Linked DNA regions of Homo sapiens: regions 1, 2, 3 and 4 are each linked to region 5. The links come from fine-mapping of genetic effects on gene expression. A gene starts in region 5. Each other region holds a variant in brackets. All regions are shown on one strand. Distances are between the middles of the regions.

Region 1 (4,115 bases), 220 kb before region 5:
GATCTGACCTGGCCTTACCTTTTCTTTTTTTTTTTTTTTTGAGATGGCATCTTGCTCTGTCGCCCAGGCTGGAGTGCAGTGGCATGATCTTGGCTCACTGCAACCTCTACCTCCCGGGGTTCAAGCGATTCTTCTGCCTCAGCCTCCCGAGTGGCTGGGACTACAGGCGCCCACCACCATGCCCAGCTAATTTTCGTATTTTTAGTAGAAACGGGGTTTCACCATATTGGCCAGGCTGGTCTCAAATTCCTCACCTTGTGATCCAACTGCCTCAGTCTCCCAAAGTGCTGGGATTACAGGCGTGAGCCACCGCGCCCGGCCTACCTTTTCTTGCCCATGCTTCTTGCCCACCTGCAGCTGACCCCAACCTGTCCCGAGGCCCAAAGAACTGCACTTCAGGGGCAGAAAAAACATTCTCACTCAGGAGCCTTCTGGGTTTCTGCATTTGAAACATTTATTTCAGGAAATACATTTTCAACACTTTGTCATTTATACAAAAAGACAAATTTCTCGGGAGGCACGTAGCAAAAGGCCATTGAGGAACAGAGCCTGATGAAACGAACAATTTTTCAAAGTCTGGTTACAGAGAAGGAAAGTGAAGCATCTCAAGGCTGGGATGCTGCTGCCCACCCCCACCCCACCCCGCCACCAAGTGACATTGAGGCTGGGCAGGCCACATGGCCTGGGCCCTGGCGCTGGCCACTCATTTCCTTCAAAATCTTGGTTTTGGCAAAAACATGGCAAGTTGGCAAAGTAAACTGTCTCACCAGTGGGGGTGGTGAGGGGTCCTTCCTCTCTTGGGTGGGGAGGGAGTCAGACGCCCAGTGCCCCAACTTCCATGCACACACACTCACACTCATACACTCCTTCTCGCTGACCTTCTCCTGGCTGCAAGCAGCCAGCCCGGTGCCTGCAGATGCACCTGGTGATGTGTGCACCTGAGTGGAGTCTCATCAGGCCCCTCTTTCTCCCCAGGAGCAAGACAGGTAACAGGAAGCAGGAAGGGACTTTGGTCATCTGTGCCCTGCAAAGACAGCCCCCATGGGTCCCCTCGTGGGGACAGAGGGTGAGGGGCCGGGCCGTGCTGCCACGAAACCTTGCTCTTCAGCTGTGGACTGTGCACCCCTGACGCCCGTTCTCTCCTTTCTAGGGGTTCGTTACCATGGGCTCTGAGGGGAGGGGCCCAGGCACGGGTAGATCAACAGAGTCAGGCTCGCCTGGCCTCCCACCTCCCCAGCTCAGAGAGTCAGCAAGGCCTGGGCCAGGAAGGGTGAGTGGCAGGGGTGGCTGGCTGGGCATTAATGTAACTACAGCCCAGTCTTGGGCCAAACCCAGACACTAGACAGACAGACGGACACGCATACACATGGACACACACACACTTCCCTGGTCACTTGGGCAGGGCAGGCGCCGGGCAGCTCACGCCACTCTGACCAGCCCAAGCCACGGCCCACACGTGCCCCCGCCAACCTTCCTTCTGGCACCTTCCATGGCTCCCTCCCTCAGCTCCTCCACCAGACTCACTTGCTTAGACCTTTTCAAAACTGGGGGATGAGGGGGTAGGGGTCATCTCTCCTTCCTTTTTATCCTCAATCAGATCCCAGCGCATCAGCAGCACCTGCAGCCCGGTGGGGGCGGGGGTGGCGTGAGAGGGGGATGGCAGGGAGATGAAGACGCCTCCCTCATTCCAGCCTGTCCCCGCATCTGGCC[A/G]AGCAGTCTGCGGATGGCTGAGATAAAGGCACTTTCTGCTCCAGGAGGGGCAGCTGCCAGGGGGCTTGGAGTGGCTGGGCAGTCGGTGGCAGGGGACCCTGGAGTTTTCTACCCTTAGGAGCAGGGCAGGGGTAGGGGCTGAGTGATGGCCACACCATGTGGCGGGCAGGGGGTCCAGGTGCTCCTGGTGGGCTGCATTCTCCCCTGGGCTCTGACACACTCCAGGGGACAGGGCCGATGGGGATGGAGGGGAGCGTGCAGCCCACTGGGCTCCTCTGCAAGTGCGAGGCCTGGCCCCCACCCCAAGGCCTCCGGCACTGAGAACCCCACACAGACGGATGATCTGCACACCGAAGCTGCTCTTCTGAGCCCTCGGGGAGCCAGGCCTGGGGACAGAGGGTCATGTCAATTCAGTGGGTGCTCTCACCCCTGCCTGTGGCTCCAGTGCAGCCTCCCCACAACCTCGGGGAGGCCGCGGCCTCATCACTGACTCACTCGGAGGGAGGCCCCTTCCCTTGTTTCCTGGCAGCATGTCGAAGGGGTGGGGAACGATGACAAATGGAGAAAATCATATAAAATAAAATGGGGTGGTGGGAGGGCCTGGGGGGGGACGGAAATGACTTGGGGGCAGGATCCCGGGGGTGGGCAGGGTGGCGTCTACATCTCCGGGGCTTCTGGCTCCTTCTCCTCCATGCCGTTGGCCATGGCGCTGCTGCCCTCGTTGAGGCGCTTCACACGGTACGCCTCGAAGTGGATGCTGCTGGTGATGTCCTTGATGTTCTGCATGTGCGTCCTGTGGGGGTGGGGGGCGGGCGGGTCAGTGAGGTGGGCGCAGCGGGGTGGGGGCAGCGGGGCAGGGGCCCTGCTCGGCCTGCCTCGGACTCAGGCCCGCCTGCCCCCACCCCCACTCCCCATCCCGACTGCTTGGCTCCCCATGGGGTCCCCCAGGCCCACCATGTTGGACCAGATCTGGTACACGTTTTGGGGGAAGGGTCAGTCCCCCTGGTAAGCCCAGACTCGGTCAGAACACACATATTCCAGTGCATGTGTCTCCCTCTGGGTCCACCCTATGGCCCTGGGTCCAGGGCCCAGGGACAGTGCATAGACTCAGAGGGACAGGGCTGGAGCATTGTTGCTCCAGGCCGGTGTCCAGGGTGCTGGCAGGGTGGAAGCAGTGGGTGACCACCGGCCTCCAGGACTATGGCCTGTGGCAGGCAGGTGGCCTGGGGCAAAGGGCTGGGTTGCCCTTGTCCCCAGGAAAAAAAAGTCCTGGGCTCGGATTTTCATTCCTCTGCAGCTCAGGAGGAATAATCTGGAGGGAGGTTGGAAAGCCCAGTATCCCCACAATGGCAGAACGGCTCCCGGAATCCCCCCACCCCTGCCCCCGCCAACCTGGAGGCCCCTCCTCTTGATAACATTCCCATCATCCATGCCAGCTGCTTGCTGAGGAAGAACCTGCCCAGGCCAGGGCCCACACTCCAGGGACCACCCACCCAGCACCCTCTCCATCAGGGCTTCCCCTCCTTGCCTGGACTCAAGGGAAACAAGGAGAAGCCTCAGCCAGGTGAAAGGGGTAGGGGTCAGAGGCCAGTGGGATCGGAGCTGGAGACGCCCCACGCTGCCGGCAGGGCCTGCACATGAGGCCTCACTGGGCCCTTAGTGGCCACCGGGCAGCTCTAACGGGCCAGACCACAGTGGATCAAAGCTCAGCCTTCCCATCCAGCCAACTTCGCAGGGGTTGAAAAGGATCTTCACTGCCTGCTTCATTTCCCAGTGGGTTTTCTTTTTCAGAAGATGGGCTTCCAAGATCTTCCCGAGGGCAGGGCAGGCAGGTGGCAGGGGGCACCCACTCTGCCCAGGGCTTCGGCCCCACACCCACTGCCCCCACCCGCTGTAGGGCCCTCTTAGGGGTGAAGCCGTCAGCCCCACCCAAGCACCCTGTCTCTCACCTGATGAGAAGGTCCCGCAGGTAGGCAAACTCACAGTGTGTGGTGTTTTCAACTAGGAGAGGAGACAGGAGGGGCTTTAATGTCCCAGTGGAGAAACTCTGCCCGGACCCCACCTCTCTCCCCCTGCCCAGAAATGCTGGTGCCAAAAGCAGAGTCTGAGGGCAGCCCCATGGGCAGGAGGGCAGGGGAACCACCTGCTCTGCAGCTGAGTATAGGACACCTGGCACTGCCCTCAGTCTGGGGGATACTGGAGTGACCAGCACCAGCTCCTGCTCCTGGACAGCTCAGCTCCTGCTCTCCAGAAAGTTCCTGGCTAATGGGAGATGGCACAGTGACCAGGCCAAATAGGAGCATGGAAGGAAGCCACAGTGGAGAAGCCAGGGCAGTGGGCCCCCGCACCACTGGGGTGACCAGGGAGAGCAGGACGTCCCAGCAGGGGCCTGAAGACAGGCAGGG
Region 2 (4,115 bases), 100 kb before region 5:
AAGCTGGGAGAGAGGCCTGGGCCGGAGCCTCCCGCAGAGGCCCCAAAGGATCAGCCTGGTCGACACCTTGATTTTGGACTTCTGGCCTCTAGAACCATCTTCAGCCCCCAAAGTTCGTGGGGCTTTGTTGCAGCAGCCCCAGCAAACTGTCACGGGGGCCCTCCTCCCCTGCTAAGCCTGGTACCCAAAGCTCCCCAGCTATCTGGGGCTAACCACACTGACCCTGGGACTTTCAGGTCACCCGTGTGTCCCACTCTTCTGCTTAACCTTCAGTGCCTGTGTGGTCACAGCTTCTCTCTCGTGATATGAGTCCTCTGGGCCTCTGAGTGCTCATCTGCCCTGCACTGAAGGCTGAAGTTAAATCCTGGAGAGAACTGACCCCTCTTGTGGGCAGGGCAGGCACTGTGCCCCCAGCACAGCCAGAGGGTACTGGCTGAAATGTGTCCCTGTAAAGTGTCTCCCCTATGCCCGTATTTTCCTTCCAAGTGGGGAAGCCAGAGAGGCCTCCCCGATCTTTCCCCCAGCCCCCTGGGGCAGGAAGCCTGTGGTCACCTGTCCGCAAGGATCAGGTGGACAGACAACTAGCCCCTCCCAGGCCACACCTCATCAACAGAGGGCCCCTCAATTCTGCTGGTGGCCTATGAGAGAAGGAAAAACTGAAGGAGTTGTTTACAGTAAACTCCAAACCCTTGTGCCAGAGAGGCCCATGGCTGAGCAAGGTACCCCCACCCCCACTGCCCTGAGCTGCCAACTCAGCCCAGCTCAGCACTGTGACCTCTGACCTGCCTGTGGGCCACGGGAGCCTGGCCTGCCAATCAGCATCTCCCAGATACCCATCTTGTGAAGTCCCCAGTGGCTGAGTGCTTCCCCGCCCTTCCCGGACAGCGTGGGCTACAGGGGACATTGGGCAGGAAGACAGCCAAGCCTCCACTGCCCAGAAACTGCCTGGGCCCATTGCAGCAACAGGGACCCACCCACCAGCATGAGGCCCCTCTGCAGGAGGGGTGGGGGCAGGAGGGAGCCTGTGGGGCACAGGGCTGCAGGAGGAGTCATTCTTCTCTTCATTAAATCGCAGGTTTCAGCCAAGTTATCCCCAGCATGGCTGCTTGCGTGGGAAGCCCACAGCTGAGGGACTGTCTGCACGTGGCATGCAGGAGTCACAAGCGCCATCTACACCCCACCCCGGGCCAGGCAGATGACCTCTCTGGTCTCAGTTTCCTGATGAGGAACAGGAAGGGCTGGACCGAAAGATCCCTTCCAGCCCGGACATGGAATGACCCCACGAGGGCCACGGTGAGGTCTGTCCCAGCTCCGCACACTAGCTCGGGCCAGCAGTTTCCAAAGGCACAGCCGCAGGGGCCTTGGAGCAGGGACAAGGAGGACCAGCCCACTTCACCCTCCTGGGCAGAGGTCAAGGACCCTGCCTTTGGCCCACATTCCTTGTGGCCAAAAATGCAGAAGCAAGCAGTGCTGGCAGAGGCACCTAGACCTTTGGGCAAAGCAGGGGCTCCACCTGACACCCCAGGCCTGGAGCACGAGAAAACCAGCCCAGGCCTCAGGTCCCCTGACTGCCAGCGACCAGGGAATGTGACACTTTCCGGCCTCTGCTTCCTCATCTCTCAATCCTAGGGGGAGATTAGGTTGGGTGATGTGTTTTTCTTTTTGACAGTAAACTTTTATTTATTTTTATTTTTATTCTTGTTTTAAGAGGGGGTCTCCCATGGCCGGGCGCAGTGGCTCACGCCTGTAATCCTGGAACCTTGGGAGGCCGAGATGGATGGATCACTTGAGGACAGGAGTTTGAGACCAGCCTGGTCAACATGGTGAAACCCTGTCTCTACTAAAAAATATGTGAGCTGGCAACTCCAAGTCCCCAGCAGCCTCCGAATGGAGGCTTTCCTCTTGTAGGATTCTCAAATCCTACAAATA[T/C]GAGTGTCTGTAATCCAGCTACTCAGGAGGCTGAGGCATGAGAATCACCTGAACCTGGGAGGCAGAGGTTGCAGTGAACCAAGAACGTGCCACCGCCACTTCAGCCTGGGACACAGTGAAACTCTGTCAAAAAAAAAAAAAAAAAAAGGTGGGGGTCTCCCTATGTTGCCCAGGCTGGTCTCAAACTCCTGGGCTTAAGGAATCCTCCTGCCTCAGCCTCCCAGAGTGTTGGGATTACGGGCACGAGCCCATGAACTTTAAAAAATAACATCTATTGCTTTGTTCCTGACTGTAAAAGGAATTTAGGCACAAAGCCGAAAATTTGCAAAATGCACAAAAACAAAGGGAAAAAATCTATAAACCCACAACCCAGGTAACTTCCATCAATATTCTGACAAATGTCTTTCCACTCTTTACTGGGGAGTGTGTGTGTGTGTGTGTGTGTGTGTGTGTGTGTGTGTGTGTGTGTTTAAACAGGTTCATACAGTGATGATGTTGGGTGCTTTCCTCCATGTGGCGCCATGTGGCTGAGGTCCCTACACATTTTGGGCCCGTTCTCTCGATTCCTCTGTAGTTCTGATGTTCTGATTCCAGATATGTCATTCTTGGCTCGGACTGTTCAGGAGAATCATTTCTGGATCTTGCTAAAAAATGGACTGCTGGTCCCCAACTCTTGGTGGTTCTGGCTCAGGAGGGCTGGGTAAGCCTGGGCACCCCGGAGTGTTTCTGGGGCGCTGCAGGTGTGAACCTCTGCCCTCCTGAAGACTCACAAGCCTCATCTCCCCCATCCCCTCCTTCCTCCCCGAGAATCCTACAAGAGGAAAGCCTCCATTCGGAGGCTGCTAGGGACTCGGAGTTGCCAGCTCACAGCCCCACCCTGCCCCCACCTCCCCGGGAGTTATCCAAGGACAATGTCCAGCCTCAGCTGCCAAGTCTCAGCTCCAGGGTCAGTCACACACTGAAGGACATGCAGAAGTCGCCGTGTGCTGGGCACTGCTGAGGACAAAGGCCTGAATGACAAGCGGGAACAAAGTCACAAGGTCCCAAAACCTGCCCGAGGTCCCACAGTCAGGGCCTCGGAAATCCATGAAAAAAGCCAGTTTAATACCCTGCCACGGAACACAGGCAGGAGAGGGAGCAGCCCCCAGCCAGCCCCCAGCCAGCCTCCCGCCAGCCTCTTTGCGAATCACCCCACTCCGGGTCACAGTCAGGGCAGCCGCCGCCTTCCTCCCTGCTCGACAGCCCTTGAGGGCAGGAGCCAGCTTGCCCATCATTGTCCCCTCTCCACTAGGGCCTGGCACCCTGCCTGGCATGTAGTAGAAGCCTAAGAAGGGCTCACTGTGTTCATTCTGCAATAGTCAATGTGTATGAGTGCTTACCATACCTGAAGACAGTGATTTACTCTTGTCCCCATTGCACAGATGGGAAACTGAGGCACTGAGAGGCTGATGACTCCCCCACATTGCCGTGTGGGCAAGGGCAAGGCCAGATGTGAGCCGGCACGCTGGGCCATCGCGCCCTCTGCCTACACTCCGCCCTGGGCCTGGGAAGGCTACCCTCGGAGATCCCCACGATGCTGACACCTCGCTCAGCCCCTCCGTGCACCCTCTCCCACGCCTCCCAGCCACCCAAAGTACCAGCCAGGTAGCACTGTTATTCTGGTTTTGCAAACTCAGTCATTGAGTGGAAGAGCAGCCAGGCTGAAGTGGGGCAGAGGCAGCCCCCGTCAGACCCCAGGGTCGGGACCCTCAGCCATCCCCACTCTCCAAGGACTAGTAGACAGAGATTTCCATCGTGCTCAGCCAGGGGCCAGGGAACAGGTCTCCACAGTGGGGGAGTGATGGATGGATGCAGGTGCGGACTGGGAGGACCCGGGCCGGCCTTCCAGCGCTGGAGCCTCAGCAGCCCAATCTACCTTGTTGGGCTCTCGTGGGGATTAAAAGACACCTTGTATACAAAGTACCAGCCCAGGGCCTGGCACCTAGGAGGTGCTCAATTAAAGGAAATGGTTATGAAAAATAACAAGGAGAAGCTCAGTCACAGGAGGTGCCTGTGGGTAAGGAGAGAACAGCTGGAAGGGCCTGGACTTGGGTCAGAGACAAAGAATGCAAGAGGGAGGGAGGGAGAGAAGGAGGGAGGGAGAGAAAGAGGGAGGGAAAGAAAGAGGGAGGGAGAGAGGGAGGGTA
Region 3 (4,115 bases), 55 kb before region 5:
CACTGCACTCCAGCCTGGGCAATAGAGCAAGACTCTGTCTCAAAAAAAAAGAAAAAGAAAAAAGAAACAAAGAAACTGCTGCCACAGCTACCTTCAACTTTCAGCAACCACCACCTGGTCAGCAGCCATCAACATTGAGGCAGACCTTCTACCAAGAAAAAGATTATGGCTTGCTGAAGGCTCAGATGATTATTAGCATTTTTTAGCAAAAAGACATAATGATCTTATACACTTTAATAGACTATAGTATAGTGTAAACATAACTTTTTTCTTTTTTTTTTGAGATGGAGTCTCGCCCTGTCACCCAGTCTGGAGTACAGTGGTGTGATCTCAGCTCACCGCAACCTCCACCTCCCAGGTTCGAGCAATTCTCCCACCTCAGCCTCCCAAGCAGCTGGGACTACAGGCATGTGCCACCACACCCAGCTAATTTTTGTATTTCTAATAGAGATGAGGTTTCACCATGTTGGCCAGGCTGTTCTCAAACTCCTAACCTCAAATGATCCGCCCACCTTGGCCTCCCAAAGGGCTAGGATTACAGGCATGAGCCACCATGCCTGGCCTAAACATAACTTTTATATGTACTGGGAAACCAAAAAGTTTGTGTGACGTGCTTTATTGCAATATTTGCTTTATTGCCGAGGTCTGGAAGCAAACCCTAGGTATGCTTGTATTACGAACAACTTTAAATGAGTAAATTCAACAACTTACCTGAAAGGGACAAATTCCTTCAAAGTACAACTTACCAAAAGTAAGACAAGGGGAAGTAAAAAAACCTGAATAACTCTTTCTATACATTAAATTGAATTTGTGATTAAAAACAAACAATCACCTTTCCTAGTAGAAAATTCTAGGTCCAGACGGTTTTCTTGGTGGATTCTATCAAACATTTAAGGAAGAAACAACATCAACCTTATGAAAACACAGAAAACAAAGAGAAGGGAACACTTCCAAACTAATTTTATGAAGCCAAAATGAGGCTGACAAAGACATTACCGAAACAAACTAACAAACAAAGAAAATACCACACCAATATCCCTCATGAATCAACACGCAAAAATCCTTAAAAACTGGGCAAATCAAATTTAGCAATATATAAAAAGGATGATATCTCATAAGCAAGTTGGACTTCTTCCAGAAATGCAAGGTTGGTTCAATATTAAAAAATCAGGCCTGCACAGTGGCTCACACCTGTAATCTCAGCACTTTGGGAGGCAGAGGTGGGAGTATTGCTTAAGCTCAAGAATTGCAGACCAGCCTGAGCAACACAATGAGACCCCATCTGTACAAAAAATTTTAAAAATTAAAAATTAGCTTGGCATGGTGGCATGTGCCTATAGTCCCTGCTACTTAGGAGGCTGAGGTGGGAGGATTGCTTAAGTCCAGGAGTTCAGGCTGCAGTGAGCTACGATGGCACCACTGTGCTACAGCCTGGGCAAGAGTGAGACTCTGTTTCTTTAAAAAAAAAAAAAAAAAAAACGGGGGGCAAAAATCAATCATTGTAATTTATCCTATTAAACGAATAAAAGACAAAACAATGATCATTTCCATAGATGCAGAAAAAGCATTTACTAAAATCATACCCATTCATGTTAAAAAATTTCAGCAAATTAAGAATAGAAGGGAATTTCCTCAATCTGACAAAGGTCATATATGACAAATCTAAAGTTAACATTATAAGTTTGGCACAGGCAAGGATGTCCACTAATCACTACTATTCAATACTGAACTGGCAGCTCTAACCAGTGCAATAAAGCAAGAAAAAAAAACAAGGCATCAAGATCAGAAAGAAGTAAAACTATGTATTTAAATCCTAAAAGACCTACAAAACCATTACCAGAGTAATAAATGACTTTGGAAAAGATCATAGGATATAAGATTTACATACAAAAATCTATTGTATTTTTACATACTAGCAGCAAATAATTAAAAATGAAATTTAAAATCTATTTCAGCTTAAAATAGTGCCAAAAGTAAAATTCTTAGGAATAAATTTAACAAATGGCATGCAAGATCTTTTTCTTGAAAACTACAAAACAATGTAATTCTGTAGAGATTTTTTTTCAGTAGAGAAATAAAAGAAATACAAAAGGACCTTTAAAACGGAGATATACCATCTATACAAAAGACTCAATATTGTTAAAATGCCAATTCTTCCTTAATTGATCTACAGATTCAACACAATCTCAACCAAAATTCACACTGCATTTTTGTAGACATCAACAA[G/T]CTACTTCTTAAATTTATAAGGAAACTCAAAGGACCTAGAATATTCAAAGTAATATTTTAGATATTTGAGAGACTTTATATTAAGACTTACTGTAAAGCCACATTAATCAAGATGTGGCATCAGCAAAGGAATGGACAAAATATCAAGAAAACACAATAGTGTCTCAACACAGGGCCTACATGTATACAGTACATATACTAATATAGGACCACATATACAGTCAACATAGGACCTACATGTATACAGTACATATACTAATATAGGACCACATATACAGTCAACATAGGACCTACATGTATATATGTACATATACTAATACAGGACCACATATACAGTCAACACGGGGCCTACATGTATATATGTACATATACTAATACAGGACCACATATATATATACAGTCAACATAGGGCCTACATGTATATATGTACATATACTAATACAGGACCACATATACAGTCAACATAGGGCCTACATGTATATATGTACATATACTAATACAGGACCACATATACAGTCAACATAGGGCCTACATGTATATATGTACATATACTAATACAGGACCACATATACAGTCAACATAGGGCCTACATGTATATATGTACATATACTAATACAGGACCACATATACAGTCAACATGGGGCCTACATGTATATATGTACATATACTAATATAGGACTACATATACAGTCAACATAGGGCCTACATGTATATATGTACATATACTAATATAGGACTACATATACAGTCAACATAGGGCCTACATGTATATATGTACATATACTAATACAAGACCACATATACAGTCAACATGGGGCCTACATGTATATATGTACATATACTAATACAGGACCACATATACAGTCAACACGGGGCCTATATGTATATATGTACATATACTAATACAGGACCACATATACAGTCAACATGGGGCCTACATGTATATATGTACATATACTAATACAGGACCACATATACAGTCAACACGGGGCCTATATGTATATATGTACATATACTAATACAGGACCACATATACAGTCAACACAGGGCCTACATGTATAAATGTACATATACTAATATAGGACCACATATACAGTCAACATAGGGCCTACATGTATATATGTACATATACTAATACAGGACCACATATACAGTCAATATAGGGCTGATATGTATATACTAATACAGGACCACATATACAGTCAACATAGGGCCAATATGTATATACGTACATATACTAATATAGGACCACACATACAGTCAACACAGGGCCTACATGTATATACGTACATATACTAATATAGGGCCACATATACAGTCAATGATTTTTAGCAAAGGTGTCAGGTAATTCAATAGAGTAAGGTATGTCTTTTCAACAAACGGTGCTAGAACTGGATATGAGTATAGAAAAACAAGAATTAACCCTGACCTCAAACCAAATACAAAAACTGATTTAAAATGGATCATACAACATCCTGACGGCTATAATAGGTTAAAAAATGTAAAAATTTAAAAAATTAAAAAATAAAAGGAATCATAGAATATACAACTATAAAATTTCTAGAAAATAAGAGAACTTCTTTTGACCTTAGTGTAGGCAAAGATTTCCTCCATAGGTCACAAAAATCATAAATCGAAACTGGAAAAAGTTGATAAATTGGACTTTATGAAAACAAAATACTCTTGCTCATTAAATAACATCATTAAGAAAACCAAAAGGAAAGGAGCAATGTGGAAAAAAAAACTTATGATACATATATCTGATAAAGGACTTATATCCAGAATATATAAAAAACATATGAAACAACATTTTTTTTTTTTTTTTTTTTTGAGACAGAGTCTTGCTCTGTCACCTAGGCTGGAGTGCAGTGGTGCAATCTCGGCTCACT
Region 4 (4,115 bases), 89 kb before region 5:
TCCCATGGCACCAGCGAGAGGCCACCAACTCCCACCCACCGAGGGCACCCCTGCAGCTAACACCCCCACCACGACCACCGCCCCGGGGGCCACCGCTGCACCCTCCTGGGTGAGCCCTGGAGAAGGCACTGTCCGGGAGAAGGGGCACAGGGCGGGGATGGAACACGGCTGTCAGAGAAGCCAGGGACGGGCGACGCCTCCCTTCCTCCACAATAAGGGCCTCCTGAGAGCAGGAAGTAGACCTTGTCAGGAGCAGACGTTTCCGAAGGAAGGTGTGAAGGAAGGAGCTAGGCAGTGAGTGAGCAGAAAGGGAGCTGCCCCAAGGGCTTCTCCCTCCCTTCTGGGCCCTAACCTGAGGCCTAGCCTTCCCTCCAGGCCAGCGGTCTCTACCCTTAAACTATATCATCCACAAGGCAGGCAGGGCCGAGGGGCTGGGGTAGACCTGGGGACCTGGGTTAGACACAGAACTTGAGAAGCAACAGGCTCTCATCCTCAAGAAGGGCCCCCCAGGTCTGTCACCTACAAGAGAGAGAGGCGCTTCTTCCACTCGCCCTGGAAAGCCAGAAACCCACTCCTGCATGCTCTCCCTGTCACCCCGTCCCTTAGACCCTCGGCCTCTGCCCAGAGTCAGGGGCCATGTGAGAATTCACAGCATGGAACAACACCCCCACCCCCGAAGCAGCAGGCCGCAACGCTACAACTGCACTCCGGTCCCTTGAATGTGTGGCCGGGGAGCGCCTGACAGCTCATCCTGGGTCTGAGGTCGCTCGCTGCCCACTTGCCCCTCCCCACCCCCTCTGAAATATCCCAAATGTGCAGGAGTGCTGAGACTCTCCAGCCATTCTGGAGAGGCGGGGGGCAGGGGGTCTCTTGCGGAAAATGTTCTAGGTTTGGGTGGCTTTTTAAGTAGATGAAATCAAGTCCTTCCTTTTTAAGAAAAGCAGGCACTCCCTCCCTCATGCTTTGGATATTTTGAACTATTTTCAACCAAGTGAGTTTGTGGACATGGGAACTGCAAAACCACAGACATTTCAGATGCGTGCACACCCTCGTCGGCCTGGGAGCCCGGGTTTCAGAAATGCAGCCATTGCTGCCATTAATAGCACCCCGTATCTTCCACGCCAGGCCAGGGTATGTCTTGTCTGAACTCCAGCACCTGGGCCTATCGGATAGTCCAGCCCCTACTGGGCCACCTGTCCACGCCGTATTTGGGGATTTGGGGGTCCAGTACCTAAGAAACTCAGCCCAACAACACAGCCCCCCTGGGAAGATGCCGGGTCCGGCACAACAGCCATCCTAAGCCACAGCATTATTCTCGAGTGTTTTTCTAAAAAGCACCTGGTGAGTGTGGACACACCCATGCAATTGTTCTTTCCCAGGGCTGGCATGGAGTTCCACCAGATTAGCACAGGGTCAGCCAATTGTACATTCTCCATCTCCACGCACAGTGCAGCAAACATATTTAGTTCCCTGGGGAGCGCCGCCAGGGTGCACGCCTCACCAAAATGGGAACCCAAGGGACAATGGCAGGAGAGCAGCCAGAAAGTGCGCATGCCTTCGTGACTGTGCTCAGAGCCCACCGGCTCCAGCCCCAGCCACTGCCCCTTCAATGTAATCACTCAGAGCCACATGACCAGGCCTAGAAACCTCCAGGTAAGGAGGTTCCCCGAGCTCTTTCAGGAAACCCAAATCAGGGCTTGGCCATACTCCCAGCCAGGAAGTTCACCCTCGTATCTAACCAACTGCTCTAATTGTACATCATTTATTTCCTTTTTTTTCCTGTCCTCAGAGGAGATGGGAAACAGCTGGGCACCACCCTTCAAGTCATAATTACCTTTTCCACATTCAAGGACAATCCAGTTGCTCCTTGGCCTCCTCTTTCTCAGCCTAAATCATCTTTCTCTAGCCCTTTAATCATATCCCGAGCTGTCCTTTGATCATAGCTAAGGGCTGGGTCCAGTCTGGGGCTCCAGGATTTTAATGAGGCCTCATTGCTACAGGATAGTGAGGAGGCCCTCCACCCCCCTTTTCTAGGGCCTCAGGGCCTGGACACACAGTCCCAGAAGGGGCACTGGGCAGAGAAGATGCACGCCGGCAGCAGAGAGGAAACTGAGCTGAAATTTGGCAAGAACAAAAGAACTATAAAGGCCTGTGCATCCAGCAAGGTGCATTCTTCCACGGTCACAAAAGAAGGCAAGACCGACTGCAGGCCTGGCCAAAGGGACCGCCTGCGTCTTCAGTGCACAACGAGACCTACAGTGGGC[C/T]GGTGATCCCCCCCAAAACAAAGATATGCCCACTTGGAACCTCAAATGTGACCTGATTCTGTTTAAGGGTCTCTGCAGAAAGAATTTAGGCAAGGATCTCAAGATAAGGTGGGCCCTAAATTCAATGCTGTGTCCTTCTAAGAGACAGAAAAGAAAGTACAGAGACACAGAAAAAGGCCTTGTGAAGACAGAGGCAGAGACCGGAGTGATGCAGCCACAGGCCAAGGAACACCTGGGGCCACCAGAAGCTGGAAGAGGCAAAGAAAGGTTTTCCCCTGGAGTCTTCAGAGGAAGCTGGCCCTGCTGGCACCTTGATTTCAGACTTCTGGCCTCCAGAACTGTGAGAGGACACATTCCCCTTGCTATAAGCCACCCAGTTTCGACAGTTGTTACAGCAGCCAGGAGAAACTCGTGCCTTATTCCCATCTGCATCATGCCTTGAGGTCAAAGCTTCATACAGCAAAGATGTCTAAGCAATCACAAACCCTGTGGGTAGCCCACCCGTCCAGCAGATCACTGTCCCAAGGGAAGGGGGATGGGGACAGGGAAGAGAGCCATAGGAAACCCCTGCACGCCTTTCTGGAAATGGGAAGGAGCAGGTCTGGAGAGAAACCCCACAGGTCAGGCCCCGGGGAAATGAAGCTTACAAAGCGTGGGAACGGAGTGGGGAGGAAATCCACGAGGAAGCAGCGTTTGGCGCACACATCCATATCCATGACCCCCCTCCAGGCACAGCCTCCATGGAGAGGCTCAGCTGGCAGGGAAGCAAAAGAGGCTCGGAGAGCGAAGGAAGGTGAGGGGCTTTCTCCCAGCAACACTGAGGCTCCAGACGGGACACCCCATTAGGTGGCAGGCTGTGTCCTCATAGACAGAGACTTCCCAAGGGCAGGGCCCAGATGGTCTTATCTCTGCGTGGCCTGACACAAAGTAGGCCTCCCAGAGCTGCCGAGCCCTGGGTCCGTCAGTGGCAGAGCCTTCCACAGCCCCTCAAGTTCCCACAGCCCCTCATCTTAGGAAACGGTGCTACCATCCACCTAGTTGCTCAAGCCAAGTCTCCGGGCACCACTGTTGACTCCTCTCTTTCCCTCACCCTCAGCATCCAAACCATGGTGCGTTTCTACCTCTAGTCTCTCTGCGAATCAGTCTGAACCTCCCTCCTCCAGTAGTGTGCCAGTTAACGGTCAACAACCGGCCACCTGGGGCCAGCAAAAGCAACAACACTCAGTTTCCCGATTTGTAGCGCTTGCCTATTCCTGTGGTGTCAATATTCCTGCCTTGGCCAATTTCTTTCTTTTCTTTTCTTTTTTGACAGGGTCTCACTCTGTCACCCGGTCTGGAGTGCAGTGGGGCAATCCTGGCTCACTGCAAACTCCACCTCCCAGGTTCAAGTGATTCTCCTGCCTCAGCCTCCCAAGTAGCTCGGATTACAGGCACCCGCCACCACTCCTGGCTAATTTTTGTATTTTTACTAGAGATGAGGATTCACCCTGCTGGCCAGGCTGGTTTTGAACTCAGATGATCTGCCTGCCTTGGCCTCCCAAAGTGCTGGGATTACAGGCATGAGCCATCGTGCCCAGCCGGCCAATTTCAAGTTATCTGTATGACATCATTGGAGGTGAGACTGAGAAGAGATGTTTAGTCACCACGAATATAGTGTTTCTATCATACAAATACAACCTCAAGAACATAACCGCAACAGGACAGACAATAGTTAAATGTTGCAAAAAACCTAAGAGGTGATGAAAGTTGTGTATTTATTATCTTTTGTTTTAAATATAATTACTTATAAGTAATTTTTTAATGTTTTGCTTAATTTTTCCTTCATAACTTGTAATTTAATTCATATTGTAA
Region 5 (4,115 bases):
CTCCAGTCCCACTCCATACAACTGCAACACAGTGACCCAGCACACCTTGGGCCACTGCCAAGCAGGGAGCAAACCAGAAATGGTCTGAGCCCTCCCTTCCCCCATCCTCAGAGGGGCCTGCCCCTTTAGGTAAACACAAGGAGGCACCGAGGCTGCTGTACAAGAGTTGGTTCCTGCTCACTCCACAAACTCTACTTCCACCTACTGCAAAAGGTTCTGTCCTTTTTTTTAAAAAAAAAAAAAAAAAAGAAACCCAGTGAGGGGTGGGGTAGGTGTGTGTGGAGGAGAGGAGAAAAGGACAAGTGATGGTCTCCCCACCTCCCAGTAAGCCGCAGGTGCAGAGACTCCAAGCCTGCCTCAGGGCCCTTCCGGCATCTGTGCAGGAGGGTCTCCGCAGAAAAAACCCAGGACCCACGACCTGGGAGGACCCCGGTCACCCCCACTGTCTGGACCCACCAGTGGGAGGTAAAGTGTAAGAAACCAAGGGCAAAGGGCCCTCCCTGGGCGGGCTAGAGATCCCCTGGAAAGGGCCATGCACCGCGCGATCCCCACAACAATCTCAAGTATTTGGAGCATGTTGGGGAGGAAGCCCCGGTGCCAAAACCAAGCATGTGCCACCTGGAAGCCCGCTCCCGCCCACCAGCACACCAACCCACCCACGCTCCTGACAGAGCTGTGCTCCGGGTGCGTAGAGGGCCATCTTGTTCGCAACAACCGGGTGAAAGTTGAAATTCTAAGCTACTGACCCAGAAGGGTATTTTCGGGGAAGTTCTGAGTAATCCTCTTTGAGACAAGGTACTTTATCACTCATTTTGGTTCCTAAATATGGAAAGCCAGAGGAAACCGACAATGGCCCAAAGGCAGGGGGATGGCCCCGATGACTCCTTCACCTCCAACTAAGGCCCATGATTCTGTTCTCCTATCAATAAAAATTAATTCATGGATCCTTGGCAGGTACCTTTCTATCTGAATGAATTAAAGGAGGGACATTAAACAAACGGTTTCTAGATTTAGAAGAGGAGACGCTATTTATAATTTGAGGACTGAGGAGGACAAAGGATCCTGCCTGCCTGGATCCTTTGGAGAAAACCACAAAGGAAAAAAAAAAGGAAGGAAAAGACAAATAATGAAGATCTGGATTTCTCTTAACCTGCCCTTGTGGCCTCGGTGTGCCCATCTGTGAAATGGAACTTCAGAGTGCCAGAGCGGGAGCCTCTTATGAAATGAAAGCTCCTGAACCGGCTCATGGTGAGGCCCAAGTCAGGCCCCCTTCGCCTACTTAAGGCGGGCCCTGCTAGGGTGGAGTGAGGATGTCAGCCGCGGGCGGCGTCCTGAGCGCAAAACGTGAACCCGAGTCGCCAAGTTTGGGCGCTGCTGGACGGTCCCATCTGGAGGCCGTCCCGTGCCCCACTAAGTAGAGGAGAAACCGAAGAGAATCCGAAGAAAGGATGCTGCGGCCTGGACCACCAGCCCTAGAGGCTGAACCCAAGGACACCCCTCCACCTAGCCCCGACCCCATTCACCCACACAGACGCACAGGGACCCAAAGCACCCGGCCGACCTGGAAAGTCAGCGATTCCTGCGAGGGTGCAAGGGGCGAGGAAGAGGGAGCGTCCCCCAGGGCAGCCCCTCCGACACTCGAGCAAGGGCTGGAGACAGCGCAGGGGACGGTCGGCTCAGGTCGAAAGCGGCCCGACAGCGGCCCTGTCCTGGGAGGAACTCGACCTGCAGTGTGCCCGCCGCGGGGACTCGCTCAGCTCCGGGGGCGCCTCGCCACTCCCGGCCGCAGGCACTCAGGTGAGCAGCGCTGGTCCCGGGACACCGACCCCTCCCCACCCCGGGCGCGAAGCCCACCTGAGTAAGACTTCTTCATGGTGCCTCCGTGGCCGCCGCTCCCAGGAAAGTGTGGCGGCGAGGCAGCGGGGCGCGCGCTCCCAGGGCGCTAATCCTGGGCCGGTAGTAGGAAGGCGGGAAGAGGGGGCGGCCCGCCGTCTGGAGTGCACCGACCGGGCCCCGCCCCGGCCCCGCCCCCGCCCCGCCCCTCCCCGGAGATGCGCATAGAACCCCGGCCCAGCCGGCTGTGGTCCCGCCCCTGACCCGCCCCCTCCCCGCCCCGTGAACGTGCGCGCCGAGCCCCACCCCCGCCCACCCCTGCGCTGCGCTGCACCTGGCGGAGCGGGGCTGGCGGGCGCCGGGCCTGGGAGGGGGCGCCCCCGCGCGGCAGCGCAGACCAGACCAGACCAGGCCAGGCCGGGGGTGGGGGCCGCCTGCGTGGCCCGCCGCGCCCGCAGCTCTGCACCCCCAGCTCCCCGCGCTGGCGCCAATGGCTGGTTCCGGGAGTCGCCGCACTTCCCAGTCCCGAGTCCGGGCGGGGCGGGCCCGGCCAGGTGGAAGCGGGCGGAGGTGCGGGCGCTCCGGGCGGCCCCGCCGGGCGAGGCGGCGGCGCCGGGCACCGCGGCGGCGCCGGGCACAGCCGGGGGTCGGAGCCGGGGTGCCGGCTTAGTGGGCCGGGGTAGGGCGGGACAGGACACCTGTCCTGCTACTTTTCTGGTAATCAAAAGGGCAGAGTGCGTCGATTGAGTTGGAGCCTTAGTTTCCTCACCTGTAAATGGGCGCGTTGGACAGATGATCATTTGTTCTCCCTGCGCTGGGCACCGTGCGCAGCTCGGTGTATCGGTGCAGCGGGGCAGACACAGGGAGCCGCCCTTTACAACTCGGGTAACGCAGGCAGTGGTGAGAGGATGCAAAACTTGCACGGAAGAATTCTCTCTACTTGGATATCCTTAAAGTCTCCACGATAAAGCGGTGTTTCCAACGTACAGAGGAAGAAGTGACTAATTATGACTGGAGGGTGGTGTCAGAGTTTTATTGAGGCGAAATCAAAACAGGGTTTTAAGGAATGAGCAGGAATTAGCCAGGCAGCCAAGGTGATGGAAGGCAGCTGTTCCCGAAAGAGGGAAGGGCGTGGCGGAGCCTGGGAGGCCTGAGGTATCACAGCGAGTGTGGAGAGACAGAGGCAGGGCCGGGCCCTTGCACAGCTGCCAATGGAGGCCGTAGAGGACGAGAGGAAGGCGGGAGGCCAGTTGGGAAGCGCTCGCTAGTTCTGGGTAGGGGCGCAGCATTGCCTTCTCCTGCAGCCCTCCCAAAAATGCACAGGAGGCTGAAAGTGTCACTAACAGCCCCGAAAAATCCTCCTCCTCTTCCCCTCTCCTTTACTCTCCTTGGGGGTCCAAGAAGCATTTTCATTTCCTGCCTGAGTGTGGGAAACTTATATGCATGAGAACGGAGGCCTATGTGGCACCGTGGGTTCGTTCCGGCCCACCTGCTTCCTTTCTTGAGTAATCTGTCCAGCCACAGCCCTGCAGAGGGAGCAGCCCAGCCAGAGGAGTTTCCCCTCACCCCAGGTAGAGCTGATTGGACCGGAGTGGACACTGGACTTCAACTGAGTCCACCCCTTTCCTTATCTGGGGGTTAGAGGCTCAGGAGGCCTCGGGAGGGAAGTGCTGTAAGGGAGGGGAGCAGGGAGTATGGACGAATTGTGAACAGCGTCCTGGATTCTGGGATGTCCACACCCTAACCGCAACCCCCACCCACACGCCCACTCACCGCTTGTACCAGCACCAGCAGATTCCGGCTTAGGCCGTGTCCTGACTTGGCCAGCAAGCACCATGATGACACTGCCCCCAGCCTAGCCATGATGACACTGCCACGAGCCTAATGCCTGGGATTCCCAAAGTCCAGCGGTGTCTCAAGAATCTGGGTTATGGGTGCATTGCTGGCTTTGTCCATTTTACTCAGCACAAGTCAGAGGTGCCCTGGAGCACAGTCACCCTGAGGATGCCAGCCCTGGCTGTTCCCTGGCTTTGGGTAGGTGGGTTCCTCTGCGGATGCTCACGCTTCTGCCTGGGGTCACAATTCACAGGAACCTGGGCACCCAGGACCCAAGGACACCTGCGTGGAGTGATGTTGGACACATCACATGGGTGCCTCCTGTGTGATGGTTCCTGGATATCCGAATTTTCCTTCCGATTCCAAGAAATCAGAAAGAAGGACAAGAGAGAGGGAGGGAAGGCTGGGAATGAGGGTTCTACACATTTTTGAGATGCATGAAGCTT

Which allele goes with the higher level. Alleles are on the strand shown, and positions count from the first base shown. SD is a standard deviation of normalised expression in the study named. Not every link is listed here.
In carriers of allele C in region 2, the expression in left ventricle of the gene that starts at base 1,910 in region 5 tends to be higher than with T alone (small effect, 0.27 SD a copy in GTEx).

What was found. PIP is the estimated chance that this variant, and not a neighbour inherited with it, causes the effect.
Region 1: its variant is the best candidate, but not a certain one, in a credible set for the expression of SEPTIN9 in whole blood (INTERVAL, PIP 0.63).
Region 2: its variant is the best candidate, but not a certain one, in a credible set for the expression of SEPTIN9 in left ventricle (GTEx, PIP 0.59).
Region 3: its variant is the best candidate, but not a certain one, in a credible set for the expression of SEPTIN9 in whole blood (TOPMed, PIP 0.61).
Region 4: its variant is the best candidate, but not a certain one, in a credible set for the expression of SEPTIN9 in whole blood (INTERVAL, PIP 0.80).

What each region holds. Positions count from the first base shown.
Region 1 is chr17:77,496,911-77,501,025 of GRCh38, reverse strand. It overlaps SEPTIN9 (septin 9), which reads right to left. Exons shown (of 12, transcript NM_001113491.2): 11 at 3,660-3,711; 12 at 433-2,503. The coding sequence ends at 2,368. Among named protein-coding and RNA genes, the nearest start is that of MIR4316, 100 kb to the right of the region's middle. RefSeq lists enhancers at 3,502-4,049, 4,050-4,115. The variant A/G (reference allele first, on the strand shown) is at 1,711.
Region 2 is chr17:77,383,126-77,387,240 of GRCh38, reverse strand. All of the region lies in intron 2 of SEPTIN9 (septin 9), which reads right to left. Among named protein-coding and RNA genes, the nearest start is that of MIR4316, 12 kb to the left of the region's middle. RefSeq lists an enhancer at 3,619-4,115. The variant T/C (reference allele first, on the strand shown) is at 1,930.
Region 3 is chr17:77,334,363-77,338,477 of GRCh38, reverse strand. All of the region lies in intron 2 of SEPTIN9 (septin 9), which reads right to left. Among named protein-coding and RNA genes, the nearest start is that of SEPTIN9-DT, 55 kb to the right of the region's middle. The variant G/T (reference allele first, on the strand shown) is at 2,227.
Region 4 is chr17:77,368,688-77,372,802 of GRCh38, reverse strand. The region is part of intron 2 of SEPTIN9 (septin 9); the gene reads right to left. Among named protein-coding and RNA genes, the nearest start is that of MIR4316, 26 kb to the left of the region's middle. The variant C/T (reference allele first, on the strand shown) is at 2,265.
Region 5 is chr17:77,279,294-77,283,408 of GRCh38, reverse strand. SEPTIN9 (septin 9) reads right to left here and starts at 1,910. Exons shown (of 12, transcript NM_001113491.2): 1 at 1,855-1,910. The coding sequence starts at 1,873. SEPTIN9-DT (SEPTIN9 divergent transcript) reads left to right here and starts at 1,512. Exons shown (of 3, transcript NR_136503.1): 1 at 1,512-1,797. RefSeq lists a silencer at 1,416-1,579 and an enhancer at 3,181-3,828.